Linked DNA regions of Homo sapiens: region 2 is linked to region 1. Evidence: fine-mapped expression QTL. A gene starts in region 1. The other region holds a variant in brackets. All regions are shown on one strand. Distances are from middle to middle.

The links.
Region 2: its variant is fine-mapped to the expression of SLBP in whole blood (TOPMed, PIP above 0.99).

The regions. Positions count from the first base shown.
Region 1 is chr4:1,707,247-1,716,896 of GRCh38, reverse strand. SLBP (stem-loop histone mRNA binding protein) reads left to right here and starts at 4,578. Exons shown (of 8, transcript NM_006527.4): 1 at 4,578-4,767; 2 at 4,907-5,023. The coding sequence starts at 4,709. TMEM129 (transmembrane protein 129, E3 ubiquitin ligase) reads left to right here. Exons shown (of 4, transcript NM_001127266.2): 4 at 1-945. RefSeq lists enhancers at 1,053-1,152, 1,463-1,532, 1,653-1,762, 3,742-4,031 and silencers at 4,162-5,071, 5,082-5,201.
Region 2 is chr4:1,782,544-1,792,193 of GRCh38, reverse strand. No RefSeq gene overlaps it. Among named protein-coding and RNA genes, the nearest start is that of FGFR3, 5.9 kb to the left of the region's middle. RefSeq lists a cis regulatory region at 5,932-7,306. The variant G/A (reference allele first, on the strand shown) is at 5,287.

The DNA.
Region 1 (9,650 bases):
GACACAGCGTCTGCCCCCGAGCCATTCCCTGGAGACCCTGGGTCTACCCCAGGTGGTCGTCATCTGGGCCATTTGCCTTACTTCTCTGGAGCATACCCACCCTCAGTTACGTGCCAGACCTGGACCGCATTCTCCTGCCCTGTCCTGGAGCTGGCCCCTGGCTGCCTGGAGGACCCTGGGTAGGTCCTGAGGGTGGGATGGAGAAGAGGGCACTGCTGTGGTGTGGGAGCAGTCCTGGGGCTTCCTGGTGGCTGTGACCAGTTGAGGGGCTGTTCCTGGGTGGGGTGGCAATGGGAGGACAGGTCAGAGCGCCCTCATTTGTGGGGCTGCCCCTCCGGGTTTCTCATCCTGTCCTTGGTGCCTTTTTCTGCCCAACAAGTCCAGGGAAGGCCGAGGTCTCAGACTCCTGGGTAGGGGTGGGGGTTTGAGTTGAGGACCAAAGTGCCATAGCGACATCCAGAACACAAGCCCACCAGGGGTCCAGCCCAGGCTACCCACTCCCCTAGGGTCTCCCAGGCTCAGAAGGGGATGCACGCCCCCTGTGGTCAAGCCTCTGGTGGGCGTCTTGCCCAGTTCCTGATGGTTCAAGGGGAGGGGGGATGTTGGCCAGGCCCCAGGGCACAGCCCTGACACAGGTGTGGCTACTGGAGGGGCCTTCATACCTGCGGCCCCAAAGCCCCTGGGCTTGGCTGTTTGAGGCAGAGGTGATGGACTCCGGGGGCCTGACACTTGGGATTTGGGAGGCTTCCTAGAGCGCTCAGCAGGTGAAGGCAGCAGGGGCCATGGCCGGGAGCCAGGCCTAGCTTTGAACTGAGTTTCAAGGGCTGCCAAAGAGGGGCAGTGGGTTGGGGTTGTTTTTACTACAAAATAAGTTACTTAGTTTTATAAAGACAAACCGATTGTAGCCAAATGACACCATATTTAATAAAATTTAGTCTGAAGTGATGTACTGTGTTTTGTGTTGCCCGATATTAAAACCAAACTTTTGTCATAGTTGGAGAATGGCCTGTGGGTATTGGAGAAGCCACCTTAGAGGTGGAATTGCGTGCGTGGCGTGCTTTGTTCAGAATAAGGAGGAAAAACCCATTGGTTGGGAGGCGGGTACAGTAGGAACCTTCCCCTCTGATTTCTGGTTAGGGACTCTGGGGTCTTGAGAACCCCTGACCCAGGGCCCTCTGCAGGAGCAGGGTGGGAGGGGCAGAGACACGTCCTGGGGGAAGTCACTGTGTGGTCGCCACTGCGGCTGCTTCCAGATGCAGGAACTGATGTGGGGACACATGGGTAGCCAAGGAGTGAGCAGCCTTTCCGGTTCACTTATGTTTGCAGCTGCGTCCTGTGAGGACACCAGGCTGTCTCTACTGACCTCACTGTGGGTCAGGGTGGCCCAGGAATTGCCAGCCGAGCACCTAGGGCAGCCAAGACAGCAGCCTGGGGTTCCCCACAGCACTGGGCCCTCAGGTGAGCACCCCAGCAACCGGACAGTGAGTGCTTGCTGCCTTTTCCCCATTCTGCTTCTTGACCCACAGGATGGTTCTTGGGGAAACAGTACACGTAATCCTATTGAAAGATATGACAGTGGGCTCTAGTTTCCTGCGCTACGAGTGTCTTCAGATTCTTTCCAGCCTGGTACTTTCACTGGCATTCTTTTGCATACACAGCCAGGCGCTGCTTTAACCAACAACAGAGATCCAGTGAGCATCTACTGAGGGGCTGTTATGGGCCCTGACTGTGCCAGGCCCTGTGACTCACAGGTACTTGGGACTCTTTGGCTCTGTACTGTTAACTTAGAGAAGAGTTTATTTCTTCTAAAAAGTTACAGCCTGACGAGAATCGCTTGAACCTGGATAGCAGAGATTGCAGTGAGCCGAGATCGCGTCACTACACTCCAGCCTGGGCGACAGAGTGAGACTGTCTCAAAATAAAAATAGTTAACAGCCTGCAAGATGGCCATCCCTCAGACTGGAAAGCACAGCCTCTGGCCAAGACCAGAGATGGGCACTTCAGAGGAGGAGGAGGAGGGGTTGGGGCAGGAGGTTTATGCTGAATGGGTTGGCTAAACATGCATATTCAGCAGGTGACAGGAGGAGCTATGAATATTCATGAAGGCAGTCCTGACGCATGCATCCTGAACAAACATACAATCCACATTCACTTTGGGGTGGAGACTTAACATTTAAAATGTATTATAATGAGGTTCTACACAGGCCAGAAGTGGTCCATCACTGTGGTCTCTTATCTGGACCAAGTTACTGAAATCAGTCTCTTGTCCAATGAAACTGTAGTTATGGCTGGTGGAATAGGGGCTGGGGGATCAGTCAGCATCCGGTGGAACTGCAAATTGGTTTTTATTGTTTTGAGACAGGGTCTTACTCTGTCGCCCAGGCTGGAGTGCAGTGGCGCCATCTGGGCTCACTGTAGCCTTGACCTCCCAGGTTCAAGGAATCCTCCCACTTCAGCTTCCGAGTAGCTGGGATCACAGGCACACACCACCATGGCCGGCTAATTTTTTTGATTTTTAGTAAAGATGAAGTCTTGCTATGTTGCCCAGGCTGGTCTCGAATTCCTGAGCTCAAGCGATCCTCCCACCTCAGCCTCCCAAAATGCTGGGATTACAGGTGTGAGCCACAGTGCCTAGCCTTTTTGTTTAAGTTTTTTGTAAAGATAGGGTCTCGCTGTTACCCAGGCTGGTCTTAAACTCTGGACCTGAAGCAATCCTTTTGGAGGCTTCAGCCTCCCAAAGTGTTGGGATCACAGGCATGAGCCATCATCTCGGCCACTGCACTGTTCCAATATTGCTTAGCTCAAGGCCAGTGCTTATTGAGCTACTAAGAGGAAAAGAAAAGCAGTGTGGCAGTAGGAATATAGTTTAAATGTAGGGTGTGTGACTTAACCCTTGCCTGGCATGACCTTAGGTCCTATTCATAATTTGGTATCTTATTGCCACTGGTGTCCCCTTGACCGCAAGGGGGTCCATTCAGTTGTTGGGGGCTTAGGATTTTAATTTTTTTTGAGACAGAGTTCTGCTCTTGTTGCCCAGGTTGGAGTACAGTGGTGCAATCTTAGCCCACTGCCTCCCGGGTTCAAACAATTCTCCTGCCTCAGCCACCCGAGTAGCTGGGATTACAAGCATGCGTCACCATGCCAGGCTAATTTTGTATTTTTAGTAGAGACAGGGTTTCTCCATGTTGGTCAGGCTAGTCTCGAACTCCCAACCTCAGATGATCCTCCCGCCTCGGCCTCCCAAAGTGTTGGAATTACAGGCATGAGCCACCGCGCCCTGCCAGGATTTTATTTTTAGTTTACAGTGTTGAGGGTTATGGGATGCCCAGGGCCTGGGGAGGAAGGGGACAGGATGTGTCCGTCCTAGTCTGAGGATGACTTTTTTGAGTTCAAAAGGGGGCGGTGGACGCACCAAGGCACAGTCCTGAGGGCAGCAGGTGCAAAAGTCCGGCCCTCCCAGAGGTGTAAGGCCTTAGAGGGATCCCAAGCATCCCTGGGGCTCAGCCTCCTGGACCTGACCCCACTGCCCACTCTTTTGGCTGGTTCCACTCTCCCCTGCATCCCTCACGTTGTCCCCAACAGGAAGCTGTGGGAACCTGTTCTCAGGTGTAGTGCACCCGTTGGGGTTCTAGTTGGCTGGATCCGCGGGGCCGTCAGCTGCAACTGTGACGGCGGGGAAGCGGGACGGGATGGTGCGGATCTACAGGACCTCGCCTCCAGGTGGAACCTACCTGCTGAGCCAGGGATTCTTCAGGATACAAACCCAGTCAACTCCAGGCAGAGGGTGGGAGCGTCATGCACCGGCGACACAGTGGAGGACGTCATGGACGGGCAGGGAGGCAGCGGCAACCGAAACTAGCGGCTCAGTCGGTGGCCGGTGTGCGGTCAACGGCCAGGGCAGTGGGACCGGAAAGACTCAGTGTAGTTGTCAACTGTTGCGACCTAAAAGGTTACTCCAAAACTTTAAGCGGCTCAAAACAATAGACGGCGCGTACGGGGCCTGCAGCGGCCACGGGACCGTGGGAAGCAGTCAGTACCCGCCACAGGCCGCGCCTTCCGGGTTCCGGGTTCCGGGTTCCCGCCAGGGAGGAGACACGCCCCCACCTGGGCAGGAACCAAGCAGAGCCGCGCTCCACCCAGGCCGGAACCAATGGGAGATGCGCCACGACCCAGGCCGAGAAACGTGCCGCTTACCCTTCCCCCACGACCTGCGCCGCGTCGCGCGCGGCCGAATCTCCCGCCAAAGCTGCCCCCGCCCGCCAAGGCGCGACCTATCAGCGTCGCAGAGGCCCGCGGCGGCCCGGCCGCCTCAATCCCGCGGGTGGGGGCAACCTTTTCCTCAGGCCTCTCCTCAGCCCACGGCGTCCATCTGGCTCCCGAGCCGAGGGCCGGGCAGTCGGGCTTCGCGGCTGCCCGCGGTCCCGAGGCCTCGCCCTAGCCCCAGTCGGCTCGCGAGGCGCGCACAGCTGAGTGGACCCCTGCGGCGTGGCCCGATGGTCTCGCCCGACCCGGCGCGCGCGGGAGGCCGAGGGGCGGGGCCCGGCGCCCACATAAAGGCGGTTGGGGGCGGGGCGCGCAGAGCTCGTGAGCGCCGGCGCGGGGACGCGGGTTTCTGCCTCAGGCCCTGCCCTGCTCTACTCTGCGCTCTCTGCCCGCGCCGCCGCCGCCTCAGCCTCGGCCCTGCGCTGCGCGCCCGGCCCGTGCTGCCATGGCCTGCCGCCCGCGAAGCCCGCCGAGGCATCAGAGCCGCTGCGACGGTGACGCCAGGTGAGGCCGGGCTGCGCGGCGGGCGAGGGAGCGCGTGCCCCGTGGGGCGGGGGTTGTGCGGGGCCGGGGTGTGGGAGGGCGGAGGTTGTAAGGCGGTCCCGAACCTCCCGTGCCCAGCCGACCGCGTCCCTCCCCGCAGCCCGCCGTCCCCCGCGCGATGGAGCCTGGGACGGAAGCGCAGAGCCGACGGCAGGCGCTGGAGGCCCGAAGACGCCGAGGAGGCAGAGCACCGCGGCGCCGAGCGCAGACCCGAGAGGTGGGCGCGGGACCCGGGGGTCGGGGCGCGGTGGGGCCCTTGACGAGGCCGCGGGCTCCAGGGACCTCGTCGCGCTCTCGCGGTGCCGGGATCGGTCAGGTCGGCACCCTGCGTCCTTTTATCTTGGTCTCCGCGCGGCCCGTGGACTGGGGCGGCCGCAGCAGGCCTGGGAGGCGCTGGAACACTCCGGAAGCCTCTTGCCAGGATGGGAGTCAGCTGAACCGGCGTCAGCCCGAGTTAGCCAGTTCGAGTCTGTGTTGTGCTCCCGGGAGAGGTCAGGGTCTCTGACGAGCTTCTCGTGAACACGTGGAAGTCAGGGACACCCGAGTCCCGAGGAGAAGTGAGTTGACAGGGCTTACCTGCTTGGCCATTTTCTGGGTTAGGCAGTGTGCAGGGAGGGTGGAGATGCGAGCGAAAGGAGGGCTTGATGGGGTGGGACGGCCGAGGAGGGTCTGGAGGAAATAAGCAGGGGTGCCAGTGGTCGTAGTGGCGGGGCTTTTCGGGGCTGTGGTTAGAGAAAACTTCTCGAGGGGCTTTGGGGTGGCTCGTCCCGCACTGGGGGCTTGTTGCTCCTGAGTTCCCTGAAAGGCGTGGTGACTTGGCCGAGATGGAGCAGTGAAGGTGGAGGGAAATGCGTGGTTCGGGATAGGCTTCTGAAGGCAGGACCTGTGAGACTTGCTGATGGGTTGGGGATGGGAGGCGTGAAAGGAAAAAAAAAAATCGGACCCAACTTCACTGTGCCAAAAGGAAAAAATTATGCTGAGCGCGGAATCATGCAAGAAACTACCTTTGCGTTACTTTTTTTTTTTTTTTTTTTTTTTTAAAGACAGGGTCTCACTCTGTCTCACAGGCTGGAGTGCGGTGACGCGATCTTGGCTCACTGCAGCCTCCCCCTCCCGGGTTCAAGTGATTCTCCTGCCTCAGCCTCCCCAGCAGCTAGGATTACAGGCGCATGCCACCGCGCCCGGCTAACTTTTTGTATTTGTAGTAGAGACAGGGTTTCACCATGTTGACCAGACTGGTGTCGAACTCCTGACCTCAAGTGATCCACCCACCTTGGCCACCCAAAGTGCTGGGATTACAGGTGTGAGCCACCGCGCCCGGCCACCTTTGTGTTTCTTTTTTTTTTTCTAAGCAGATACCTACAGATACAAGATTAAATATCTCCACGGGTGAACTCTGTTCACTTTAAGTGGCGACTTACTGAGCACACTAGGAATACATAATTGACTATTCCCCTACCTGCTCCTTTTCTCTTGGAACATGTAGATCTTTCTCCTTCAACCTACTTTTCTCTTTTAAATATTGAAGCCCTGACAGTCATCTCTGGAGAAAGGCACAGACCACAGACTCTTTCTGTAATTTCGTGTTCTTCTAGGTATGTCCTTAACATTAGCTAAATTCCTAAAGCAATTGAGACCTGTCTCAGACACTTTTTGGTTTACACAGGAAAGAGGCATCAAGAATGACTCAAGCCTTTAGGTCTGAACGCTGTTGATTGGGGCCATTTGCTAAGATAGAGAAGATGGGCTGGAGCAGCTAGGCATGGGAAGTTGTGAGGCTTGAGAAGCTGCTTAGAGAAGCAAAGGAGATGTCAAGAAAGGTAACGGAGTGTAGGAGTCTACATGGGAGGCATCTTCAGGCACAGTGAGTTACCAGGACATAGAGATGATATTTAGAGACTTGGGTCTAGGGGGCTGGGCGCAGTGGCTCCTGCCTGTAATCCCAGCACTTTGGGAGGCCAAGGCGGGCCCATCACCTGAGGTCAGGAGTTCGACACCAGCCTGACTAACATGGAGAAACCCCATTGTTGGGGACCAGCCTCGACACTTACCCGGAATGAGAAGAGACAGGTTAAGAGCTCATAAAGGTGGGAGCCAGGGGACCAGTTGGAAAATGGAGGCTGCAAAAGGCCCGGAGTTGCGGTCTCCACACTATTTATTGAGTACAATCACTTTAAGAAGTAGGCCGGGCGCGGTGGCTCATGCCTGTAATCCCAGCGCCTTGGCAAAAGGCGGGTGGATCACGAGGTCAGGAGATGGAGACCATCCTGGCTAACACGGTGAAAACCCGTCTCTACTAAAAATACAAAAAATTAGCCGGGCGTGGTAGCGGGCGCCTGTAGTCCCAGCTACTCAGGAGGCTGAGGCAGGAGAATGGTGTGAACCCGGGAGGCGGAGCTTGCGATGAGCCGAGATCGCCCCACTACACTCCAGCTGGGGCAATAGAGCGAGACTCCGTCTCAAAAAAAAAAAAAAAAGAAGTAGATGTTCAGGGTGAAACAGTGAAAGGGAGGCAGGCGTCATAGGCGTAATTATAGCGGTTTCAATGAATCTCCTTTGTGCTCAAACAGCATATCTAACTTATTGGAGAGTAGCTAGTGGGAGCGGGCTTAACTAGGAGCCTGCAAATCTGTCCACATTCCAGTGCTTTAAAGGAATGTCTTTCTTCTTGAACACTGTTTACAGATAAGAGAGCAGGTCTCGCTCTGAGCATGGGAACATGATGGCAATTAGGAGGCTTTCCTCCTCAGAGGCCTCTTGTGGCTTTTCACAACTTACTGTGCCATATTTTTATGGCCAGCTTATACAGGCACTCGATAAGCCTTTTTCCCAACACCCCATCTCTACTAAAAATACAAAATTAGTCGGGCATGGTGGCGCATGCCTGTAATCCCAGCTACTCGGGAGGTTGAGGCAGGAGAATCCCTTGAACCCAGGAGGTGGAGGTTGCGGTGAGCCGAGATCACGCCATTGCCTTCCAGCCTGGGCAATAAGAGTGAAACTGTCTCAAAAAAAAAAAAAAGACAAAAGACTTGGGTCTACGGGTGGGTACAGAAGAGGCCCTAGGTCCAGATATGAAGGGAAGGTAAACAAACCTTATTGAGATCAAGCTCTGAACTCTCCAGTGGTCTCATTTAGCTGAAGATAAAAATATTAAATCCTTACAGTGCTTTAGAAGTTATGGAAGTTTTTGGTGTCCTCATTCCTCAAACTATAGGAATGCTTCTGTCCTAGGGCCTTTGCACTTGGTATTTGCACATTGTGGATAATGCCTGGAGGCACCTGACAAATAGAGCCAGCTCGTTGATGGATAAGATCTAGAAGTACTCTTTGGAAGGTTGTTAGCTTAGTGTGTAAAATTAGGCTTTGTTGTCCCAAGATAGGGTAGATTATGAATATAACCTACTTAATCTAAGAAATGGACTTAAAGATACCAAAATATGGCATGTAGTATATGGTCATTCACATACACAGGCTTTAAATTATTCTTGTAGTTCAGGAATTTGTTATGTTGGCAGACCCAGACTTGAACCTCTTGATACACTAGTGAGGATGCTTGTATCCAATCCTGGACAAACCTCTATTGAGTCAATTTAATTTTCAGTTAATTACCTAATTTGATTTCATAACTTTCTACCATTTTTAGAATCTGGAAATTTACTTTTAGAAATCCAATTTAAGTTTATCTGAGTTGTGTGACTGTAAGGGAAGAAATGATAATTACATAAGAGGATTATTCATTTGTTACTGCAATTGCATTTTCAAAGCACAGCATTTGGTTTACAGCTAAAATAGGTTGCTTATTTGTTGTAATTAAAGTTAGTATCTAGTGTATTTTTTTGTGACGGGGCATAACTGTCAACCAGGCTGGAGTTCAGTGGTGTGATCTCACCTCACTGTAACCTCTGCCTTCCAAGTTCAAGCAGTTCTCCTGCTTCAGCCTCCAAGTAGCTGGGACTACAGGCATGCGCCACCACGCCCGCCTGATTTTTTTTTTTTTTTTTTCGTTTTTGAGATAGAGTCTTGCTCTGTCGCCCAGGCTGGAGTGCAGTGGCGCGATCTCAGCTCACTGCAACCTCTGCCTCCCGGGTTCAAGCAATTCTCCTGCCTCAGCCTCCTGAGTAGCTGAGATTACAGGTGCGCACCACCACGCCTGGCTAATTTTTGTATTTTTAGTAGAGACTAGATTTCACCATGTTTGTCAGGCTAGTCTCGAACTCCTGACTTAGTGATCAGCCTGCTTTAGCCTCCCAAAGTGCTGGGATTACAGGTGTGAGCCACTATGCCTATCCTAATTTTTGTATTTTTAGTAGAGGCAGGGTTTCATCATGTTGGCCAGGCTGGTCTCAAACTCCCGATCTTGTGATCCGCCCGCCTCAGCCTTCTAAAGTGCTGGGGTCACAGGCATGAGCCTGTGCACCCGGCCCAGTATCTAGTTTTAATGTCAGTAGTGATCAACAGAAAAATGGGGTAGAAAAATAAAAATGTGAGTTTATGTCTGATGTATAAATAAGATACATCAATTTGAACTGCCAGAATTTGGGGCTCGAAGCCTTAAGCTTTTGGATTTCCTGATTATTATTTTTTAAATTTTAATTATTATTTTTTTTAGATGGAATCTCGTTCTGTTGCCCAGGCTGGAGTGCAACCTCCACCTCCCAGGTTCAAGTGATTCTCCTGCCTTAGCCTCCCGAGTAGCTGGGATTATAGGCACCCACCACCACACCCAGCTGATTTTTGTATTTTTAGTAGAGACAGCGTTTCACCATGTTAGCCAGGCTGGTCTTGAACTCTTTTTTTTTTTTTTTTTTTTTTTTTTTTTTTTTTTTTTTTTTTTTTTTTTT
Region 2 (9,650 bases), 75 kb before region 1:
CATGAATCTCCCAGAGGCCAGGGTGTCCCTGGGCTGACCTCAGGGACTTGGAAGGGCCCTGCTCCCAGGAAGCCCTCATGCCCACCCCTCTGTGCCGACTCGGTGGCTCAGCACCTGTCCTTGGCCACCCTCATTTCCTGCTCTGGCCAAGCCCATGTCCCCAGACCGTCTTGGGGCCCAGGCTCACCCACCTCCAAGTGCACTGTCCAGCCCCCTCCAGTGCACAGCCCCAGGTCACTGCCAGCCAGGTCCGCTCCCAGGACACCGTTCCCCAAGGCACAGCAGCACATTGGCCCTGCTCTTTTTTTTTTTTTTTTTTTTTTTTGAGAGGGAGTCTCGCTCTGTCACCCAGGCTGGAGTGCAGTGGCACAGTCTCAGCTCAAGCAATCTCTGCCTCCCTGATTGAAGTGATTCTCCTGTCTCAGCCTCCCAAGTAGCTAGGATTACAGGTGTGCACCACCACACTCGGCTAATTTTTGTATTGTTAGTAGAGACGGGGCTTCACCATGTTGGCCAGGCTGGTCTTGAACTCCTGACCTCAACTGATCCACCTGCCTCAGCCTCCCAAAGTGCTGGGATTGCAGGTGTGAGCTCTCTTAACCAACTAAGTCATCAGGTTCTGAAAGCACCAGCATGCGTGTGGGTCCTGACCTGACCGTCTTGCCCCTTCCCCTGGGGGACTGGATGGGACTGTGGGAAGGAGCTCACGCGTGGACAGGTCTCCCTCAGGGAACAGCTGCTGAGTGGGGCCCCTCCTGTAGGCAGAAGGGCTCAGTGGAGCTGTAGGCTCCTTTCCCAGTACCTCCAAGAAGGACTGACTCCCTCTGCACCCACGGCCACGGGTCTCTGGGAGGGGAGCATCCGTGCATCTGTGAACACATAGCTTTCTGCTTTCTTCCTCACCAGGATCCTCTCCTTGGCAGAAATGCCCAGTAGGGGTCTGGTCCCCATGTGTCCCTTCCCCAGCCCCTCTCCCATTTGTCCTTGAAAGCCTGATCCTACAGACCCTATCTCTGAGGGTCCCTTGCTCTCCAGCTTCTGGGTGGGTTTGACCAGTGGGCAGTGCTGGCAGGAGGAGGGACTGGGGACCAGGCACTTTCACAACCCACTCCCTCCCTTTGTCCCCGCAGCCCTGGCCCAGGCCCACCACCTCTCCCTCCAGTAGCAGCCGGGGATTCCTTAGTTCAGTAGCATCTTGTATTTCTAGGTTGCCCTCACAAATTACTGCACACTAATTGACTTAAATTTACTTTCTCATAGTCTGGAAGAGCAGATGTCTGGAATCAAGGTGTAGGCAGGGCTGCACTGCCTCTGAAGGCTCCAGGGAAGATCTTTCCTGCCTTTTCCAGCTCCTGGGGGCTCCAAGTGTCCCAGGGCTCCAAGTCCCTTGGCTCGCAGCCTCATTGCTCCAGCATCTGCTTCCCACTCTGCCATCTTCTCTTCCATCTCTTATACAGACACTTGTCGTTGGATATAGGGCCCACTTGGATAATCCAAGAGGATCCCCCATCTCAAGATTCTCACCTTAATTACATTTGCAAAGATCCTTTTCCAAATACGGTCACGTTCACAGGCTGCAAGGGGTGAGGACATGACTATGTCTTTTGGAGGCCGCCGTTCTGCCCACTACGCACTGCGTGGCAGCTGCCTCCTCTGGCGCCCTCCACATTCTGAATGGCTTCTCCAGTGGCACTGTCTGGGAGCAGTTAGGTCAAAGGGCAGGAGCATTTCCGTGGTGCCGCTAATTTTGCCAAATTGGTTTCAAAAGGGTCCTAGTGCCGCCACGGCCACCAGCAAGGAGTTGCTGCCCACTCTGCCCCAGGACTGTCAGGGCCACGGGAGGTCTTGCCTGAAAGCTCGGTTTAGTATTGTCTGAATAATTGTATTGTTCAAATGGATCACTTCCAAGCCCACAGGTGCAGATGGCATTCCCCCGACACTGAGGTGAGGCCAGGCCGGCTGCTTGACTCCTGAATTTCGGTGACTCTGCACATTAGCTGTCAGTAGCCACAATTTCATCACAGTGCCCTTGCTCAAGCGTTTCCACAGACCCTTTGCAATATTACCTGGCTTCATCCTCGTGGCACCTGATGAAGTAGGCCCTTCTGGGGCCTTTGAGGCAGGGAGGGCAGGCGAGGACTCGGGGAGCCTGTTGAGGGTCCGCATGTGCAGGAGGCTCCAAGCAGGTGCCGGCCGGACAGGAACTTCCCATCTGCTGGACTCCGGTTTACACCTCCCTACCCACTCCCCCTGCACCCCCACCCACCTCCTGAGGCCCATACCCAGGGGTCCCCCCTGAAGGTGAGTATGGGAGGCAGGGGCCGAGACAAGCGGCGCGTGCGGCTGACGGCCCGGCCCAGCCCAGCCCTGGCGGTGACTCAGAGCTGGGCAGCCTGGCTTGCTGGGGCCTGCGTGGGTGAGTGGCAGAGGGTGCCTGGGAGGGAGGCCCATCCTGGGTGCAGGGCCTCCGCAGGTTGCCCATGGCCCCGCTCACACCCGCGTCTCCTGCGTCTCCCTTGCAGGTACTCGGAAAATGGCAGAGGCGCCTTCGGCAGAGAGGACATTCCCAGCACAGTCTCAGATCCACACCGCCTGTTCCCCACAGCACTCCGGGCAGGCAGCTGCCGCCTTTCCCGACAGGGAGGTGGGCAGGGAGGCCGAGGCTTGGAGACCTGGAACCCAGGGCAGGCGAGCTGCCAGAGAGAGCCTCCTGCCCAGCTCCCCTCTGGGATCAGAACCTGGCCTAGGGCTGGGGCTGCTGCGGGGAGCTTCCCTCGGCCCTGCCATGAGGCTGAGTGGAAGGACAGGGGACACGGAGGTCCGGAGTGGGTATCAAGTCCCTTCTGCCCATGGGACCCCCTGGGAGCCATGCGATCTCCCCTCGGAGCTCCCCATCTCCTACCACCTTCCCCAGGAACCACTAGTGCCCTTCCACACTGTCAGGGCACAGGGTTGGGTGCCAGGGATCAGGGCAGGCCACCATGGGATGGAGGAAGAAGGGCCCCTGGGTAGCCCTGCTGAACTGGACTGGGCTGTTAGTGGGGCTATAGCTATTATAGTTTATGGGTAGTTTCTGCCTTCTATTTTATTTTTGAGACAGGGTCTTACTATGCTGTCCAGGCTGGTCTTGAACTCCTGGGCTCAAACAATCTTCCCGTCTCAGCCTCCCAAATACAGGCATGTGCCACCATGCCTGACTTTGCCTTTTAAATTTATTCTCACAAAATTTGAAAAGTATTAAAATAAAAAAACAAACCTTGATTTGCTCATTATAACAGAAATGAAATTTTAAAGAACGTGAAGAAGAAGAAAAAATATTCCAAAATCCCTAAGCCAACGCAGCTAGCAAGACCCTTAATTTTAGCTCTGAGCTTCCTGGCAGGCTGAGGAAAAAGGGTAACACCGTGAGTCATGAGCTGCTGGGAGCCTGTCGTCTTGGATATGGCAGGACAGTCCCAGTTCAAACATTCTGGCCTTTTTACCGTTTGGTTCACTCAGACCACTAGACCTCAAGTTCTGACTTTGGTTTGGAAAATGTGGCTGCTCCCAGATGAGCAAAGAAAGGAAACCAGAGCTGTCTGCAGACACAAGAGAGAGCTGTAGAGATGGGGGCGGGGGTGAATGTTCAGGCTCCCCCTGGGCTCCTGCCCCAGCCTGGGAGTGGGGGAGGCCCAGCTCCCTGCCTGGAGTCTGGCACAGGAGGGCGGCTCGAACTGTGCGGAAGCAGCAGGAGGTGGTGGTGGGGTCCCCCACAGGGGTGGGTGGGGCGGGCAGTGGAGGGCTGGCCAGGGAGGGGTTAAGGCTGGGCAGCTCCCAGGATGGCGGGGGCCAGGCCGGTAGCCGCTGAGCAGCTCAGAATCTATTTTCCTAAGCACTTGGCATTTGCCTGAAACCTCAAGTGTATTTTCCCTAAGTTTTATTTTTTCTTTGACCCCAAACTCTGGTAAATTTAAAGGAAATTTAATTATGGTGTTTTGGGTCCATTTACACTTAAACCCTCTCAGCATTTTTTCCAAGACCCTTTTGGAGTTCAGCACGCCTTGGGAGCCTTCTAAATGAGCGTTTTTATTATTATTATTTTTTGAAAAGGCTTCACTCCCCACTTCTGCCCCCCCAGCACCAGCCTTCCTGCCAAGAATAAACAAGCCCCGACTCCACAGGCTCCGGCTGAATTAGGAATCCAGGCCTCGGGGCCGCCGGTCCAACCCCACGTCACACCCTCCTCCCTCCGCGGCCTCCGCCCTCTTCAGGATGCCCCTTCCTCTCAGCCCTGCCCGCCACTCCGGGTGTCACCTGGCCAGCCTCGGCCAGAGCCCCTTCTCAGGGCCTCGCCTGGCCACCCTCTGCCTGCCCGTCCCCAAACCATGGACAACGTCAGTCGTGCTTCCGGCCAGGGCCCAAGAGTCCAGAGTGGCCAACTGGGCCCAGCAGGCAGCTGCCCACGAGAGGCTGGAGATCCCGTCCAGCCCAGCCGGGGTGTGGGGACGGCCCCACCCCCACAAATGGGTTGGCTTGGGGCAACCCCACACCCTGTGTGGCTGAGAACCTGTGGATGGCAAGGTGCGGAGTGCTGGTGGCTCCTGACAGAAACTTCATGCCAGCCACATCACCAACACCCACTTGACAGGTGGGGAAACTGAGGCACAGAGCCACAGGCAGCAGGAGGCGCTCAGTGGCCTGATCTGACAGCCCTGCCCCAGGGAGGTTTCAGCTGAGCTTGGGAAGGGTGGGGTGTTCGCCACAGTATTTAGGGAGACCCGAGAGTGGGCCAGAGCCCCCTGCCCCAGGCCAGGTGCCCAGCGGCATGAGGGAGGGCAGCCCTGCCCCACCCGGCCCCACCCGCAGCCACTGCAGGGCGCTGCCCCCGTAAGGCTGCATGGGGCTGACTAGAGGAGGCAGCTGTTTGGCTCTGACCCCCTGGGCGGCTTCCTCGGGAGCCCTGCCTCCAGGTGCAGCCTTCAGCCCGGCCCCCACCCGGCACGCTCAGCAGGGGCACAGGGCCCTGATGCTCGGCCCCAGAAGCCGGCAGATGATGGCGGAGGCTGCGGCCAGAGGCCCTTGGCCTGGGAGTGGGGTCGGGAGGCTCCGGGCTGCAAGTGCAAAGCCTGATGTCTGAGGCGGGTCCTGGTGGGCCCGGAGGACCTCGCCCAGTTCCAAGGTCTTGGGTAAGAGGCACCTGCTGGGGGCCTCAGTCTCCCAAGCTATGAGGGACTCTATTCACGCCTGCTGAGAGGGCAGTGGGGAGAGCAGGGGCAACCTCCGCAAGTGCCCAGGAGGAGATGGCCC[G/A]GGCGCCAGGGCATGCCAGGGAAGGGGCGTGGCTCTGGGGACTCCAGCTCTGGGGGAATCTGGGAAAGAAGGCCCTGGCCAGGCCCTGATGATCGCAGACCTGGGCCACCCTCCCCAGCCCTCTCCAGCCCTCAGGAAGTGGGGCGTGGCTGGTCCCTGGAGACCTCCCCTAGCCCAGCTGTTGACCTGTCAGAAACAGAAGCCACCTCTTGCCAAGGTGAGGGCCTGGCTGGCGTCTTGGGCCCCTTGCTGCGGTGTGCGTGGGGCCTCGTCTGCCCGGATCCGGCAGGGCAGTCAGGGTGAGGGCCGAAACCAGCGCCCCTGCAAGAAGCCTGCTCTGGCCCCAGCCTCCCGGGGGTACGGAGCTTCTGCAGGTCCCCCAGCCCTTATGCTTCCTGCCACCTGCTCCCACAGAAGCCCTCCTGCCACTCCAGCTCAGCCGCAGGCACTGGGAAGGGGAGTCTGTTGAAGCCACAGGGTTGCCCCATTTTACAGCTGGGTATCGTGACGCACCTCACACGAGGTATATTCTAACAGCCGTTGGCTGAGGGTCTGCTGAGGCACTGGGTAGAGCGTCCCCCAGTGCTTCCGCTCAGCAGGGAGATGTGGGCCGTGGGTGCCTTAGGAGGCTGGCAGGGCTGGGATGTCAGCGCCGTCGACACCTCATCCCTGTGCAGCTCCCAGCCACGCTTCCACCCTCCCTGACCACCTGTGGCCAGCCCCACGCTCTGGGCTCCTCCATCTATGGGCCTGCCTTTCCAGGGACCCAGTCCCAAGGCTGACTGGGGCCCTGATGGACAAGACGACCCTTTCTGCCCCAAGCTTGGGGCCACCTCTGCCTCCAGCTCTCGGAGTCCCCAGGGCTGGGCAGGACAGTGGAAGCAAGGTCTGCAGCCCCTAATAGAGACATCTTCGCCTCCTGAGGCCTCCCTTCCCCGCCACGCCTGCCTGCCTCCCCCGGCCCCAGTCTGCTGACAGCTTCATTGTCCACTGACCTGGGCAGGGGAGGGACCGAGGGCATGGGGGTGCTGACCGGCGCCAGGCAGAGGCAGGCGCCCGGGAGAAGGTGCCTACGCAGTGTGCACCCAAGCCACACATAGCTGGTGCCCACGCCTATGCCACACCTGTGCCCACACCTGTGCCACACTATAGCCCTGGTCAGACAGGGCTGCCCAAAGGGCCTCAAACCTGCTGAGCCCCAGCTGGGGAGTGAGGGCCTCAGGGGCCTCCCAGGGGCACAGTGAAGGGGATGGGAACTGGGGGGCGGGGGAGGTGCCCCTTCCCAACCAAAGGGGACAGAGAGCTGGACACAGAGGCTGGGGCTGGGGAGGCTTTGAAGGCAGGGTGAGGACCAGCAGGTCCTGGGGTGGGGGCACATGGAGTGCCCGCCAGGCCTGGGCTCAGACTGCACCCACCCAGCTTGCAGCTGAGCAAGGACCGGTCACTGTCAGGGCCGGAGGGGCAGGGCAGCGCACACTCGGGAGGGCGGGTTGACCAGAGCCTTGGGTCCCAGGCCCGGGGTTATCTCAGGATGGGGGTCTGTGTTGCCTCAGTGTGGATCAAAGGGGCAGCTTATCAGGCCAGCCAGGCCAGGGCTGGCTTCCCACGGCCGCCCTTCCGCCCGCCCAGCTCCCCTCCCTGCTCCCAGCAGCCTTTGCTCCCTGCGCCTCCCTGCCCATGGGGACCTTCCACCCTCCCTTCTCTGGGATGCCTTCTGAGGCCTGCCCAGGCCCTGTGGCTCTGAGGCTTATCCCCAGATTCACCCCTCAAGGATCTGGTCTACAGCCAGGCCATGACTGACCCCCAGGAGTGGGCAAGGAAGCAGCCTGCAGGTCTAGAGTGGAGGGCCACAGGGATCGCTCCCTGGATGACAGGTCCGTTCATCTGGAGGCAGAAGGCAGGGCAGGCAGAGCGCATTCAGGCAGCGGCAGCTGTGTGCCTAGGGACCACAGGCAGAAGGCACTGGTTCTAGGGTGTGAAACCGCTGGGGCTGGGTGGCCACATCCCAGGGGGGCACCCACCCTCTCAGAGGACATGCCCAGGGCACATGGAGCCATCCAGGTGCCCCTGTGGAGCTGCTTTGGGCCCAGGGGATTGGTGTTGCCAAAGAGAAGCTCTGGGAGCCACTACACCAGTGCCACCCGCCTGCCTGGGCATGGAAAACTGGGTCAGAGCAAGGCTGGGCAGGCTCCCTGTGCCAAGGCCGCCGCCTTGCTGTGCCCAGCCAAATGGGCATCCACAGCCAGGGCAGGGGCTTCAGGTGGCAGCACAGCCTGGGGCCCGAACCCGTGCCTGTGTGCTCACATGGTCACGTGTGCATGTGCTCTCACGTGTGATTGTCCTAGGGACACAAGTAATGTCAGAGGCTTCAGCTGACAGCCTTGGCTCAGGCCCCACATGCCCCGACCTGGCTCCAGACAACCTGTTGCCAGTGTGGTGTCCAGGATAGCCGAGTTTCCAGGCTAGCCCACAAAAGCTGCGTGCCCCAAGTGTCCTGCCCAGCTCTGGCCAGCTCAGGAGAAGGCCCCTGCCTGTGATCCTTGTATCTCCGGGGCTCGGGGAGATAAGTGAGTCAGAAGACAGGTGAAGAAGCTCAGCTTCGGGAGGACAGCCCCTGCCCTGGGTGCACAGCAAATCAATCATAGTCGCTTCCTGGCTGAGCACCTCAGGACTGCCCATCAAGCACCCTCCCTTGGGTCAAGCTCGTCCTGCCTCCCAAGCAACCCCCAGCTTGCTGCACCAGGACACACCCCCATCTTCCGCATGGCTGCCTCAGAGAAGCTGCCAGGGTTCCGCAAGAGCTGTGCCTTGGCCTTGAGGCTGGCCCGGCCGTGTGGGGCTCATTAGCCCTCGAGGCTCATCCTCCTGGCGGTGCAGGAACTGCAGGACACTGTCACGGGCACCTCAGGACTGAAGCCCTGGGCCCCATACCCCTGCCCAGCCTCTAACCTGGTTCCTGGAGGGCAGGGACTGAAGAGAGGGACGGGCTGCAGGTGACCCCCATCCTGGGTGCCAAGGGTAGAGGCTGAGCCGTCTGCCCACCGAACCCTGCTGCACCACTCTCTCCTGAGCATGGGGCACCTTCTTTCTCTCTTTGCCCTGGCTGCCAGGAAGCTCAGACCAAGCCAAGGGTCCAAGGGCAGGCACCTCCCTCCACAGAGTTTCTTCATTCCCCACTTCCTCCCTGGCCCCACAGAGGCCTGGGCTTGCCTGGGCTTCCAGCCCTGCCTTGGGGCAATCTGTGCACCTGCTGGGCAGGGTCGGTCCACCAGCTGCTGCTGGCTCTGCGGTCCTCCCAGATCCACCCCACTGAAGAGCAGGGGGACGGGCAAATCTCCAAAACCAGGGGCTGGTGAGTCTCAAAGAGACCCCCCATCCCACCCCCATCCCACCCCCATCCCGCCCCCATCCCGCCCCCATCCCTGCCCCTGCCCACCCACCCCTTACTGCTGGAAGACCCTTAGCTCCCCCGAGACAAAATGGTCCTGTGCCTGGACCTCCCCCCGCTGCAACGTTGACATTGTGACCCCACCACAGCATGGCAGGACCCCCAGGGCGGCCCCACACACCCTCTCCTAAGGATGCCCTGGACTCAAGTTGCACGGCTTGTGCATGCAGGCCCGTGAGGGGTGCAGACATGGCACTCCGCCCAGAGAGCTTATAGGACCCCACTGCTTGCTACTGTGGAGCTCACAGAACTGGTAGTGCCAGAAATTGGCTTGGGCAGGTGGAGACTCGACAGCCAGCCTGTTCCCCAGGGCCTCTCTGTTCAGGTTCTACCCAGACGCCCTGCACCCCCCCCCCCCACCTGTCTCCATTGCTCTCAGACAAGGGGCTGGAGGCGCTGGACACCTGCTGGCACCATACACCCGGAAAGACCCAGCAGGTCCTCTGGCCCCCTTTCCTGCATGCCCCATGCTCTGCTCTGAATGTCGTGGACTGCAGGCTCCATCCTGGGGCCCCGCTGTCATCACCCCGTCTGTCGTCAATGGCCAGGCCCCATCATAACCTGGCTCTGAATGCCATGACCAGCCCCCTCCCTGAGCCCCTCACCTCGGCCATCGCCCGCCTCCTGGCCATGCATCCCATCTCAAGGCCGGTCCCAGCCCGGAGGACCGGGCTCCCTGCATGGCCGTGGGCTCACCCATGCAGTCATCCATAGAGTGGGGGCAATAAAGCTGCGACCAGGCCTGCAAGGAGAGGCCTCAGTGTCTGGAGACTTCTGGAAGGCGCTGGGCCGCTATTGCTTGGGCGTCGCCTCGGGCTGCCCCCAGACCCTGAAGCAGCTGCCCAGGCGGGCACGCCTGTGGGGTTGCATGCTCAGGAGGGGCGGCAGGAAGCCCCCGGACCTGCTGTGTGGCTCA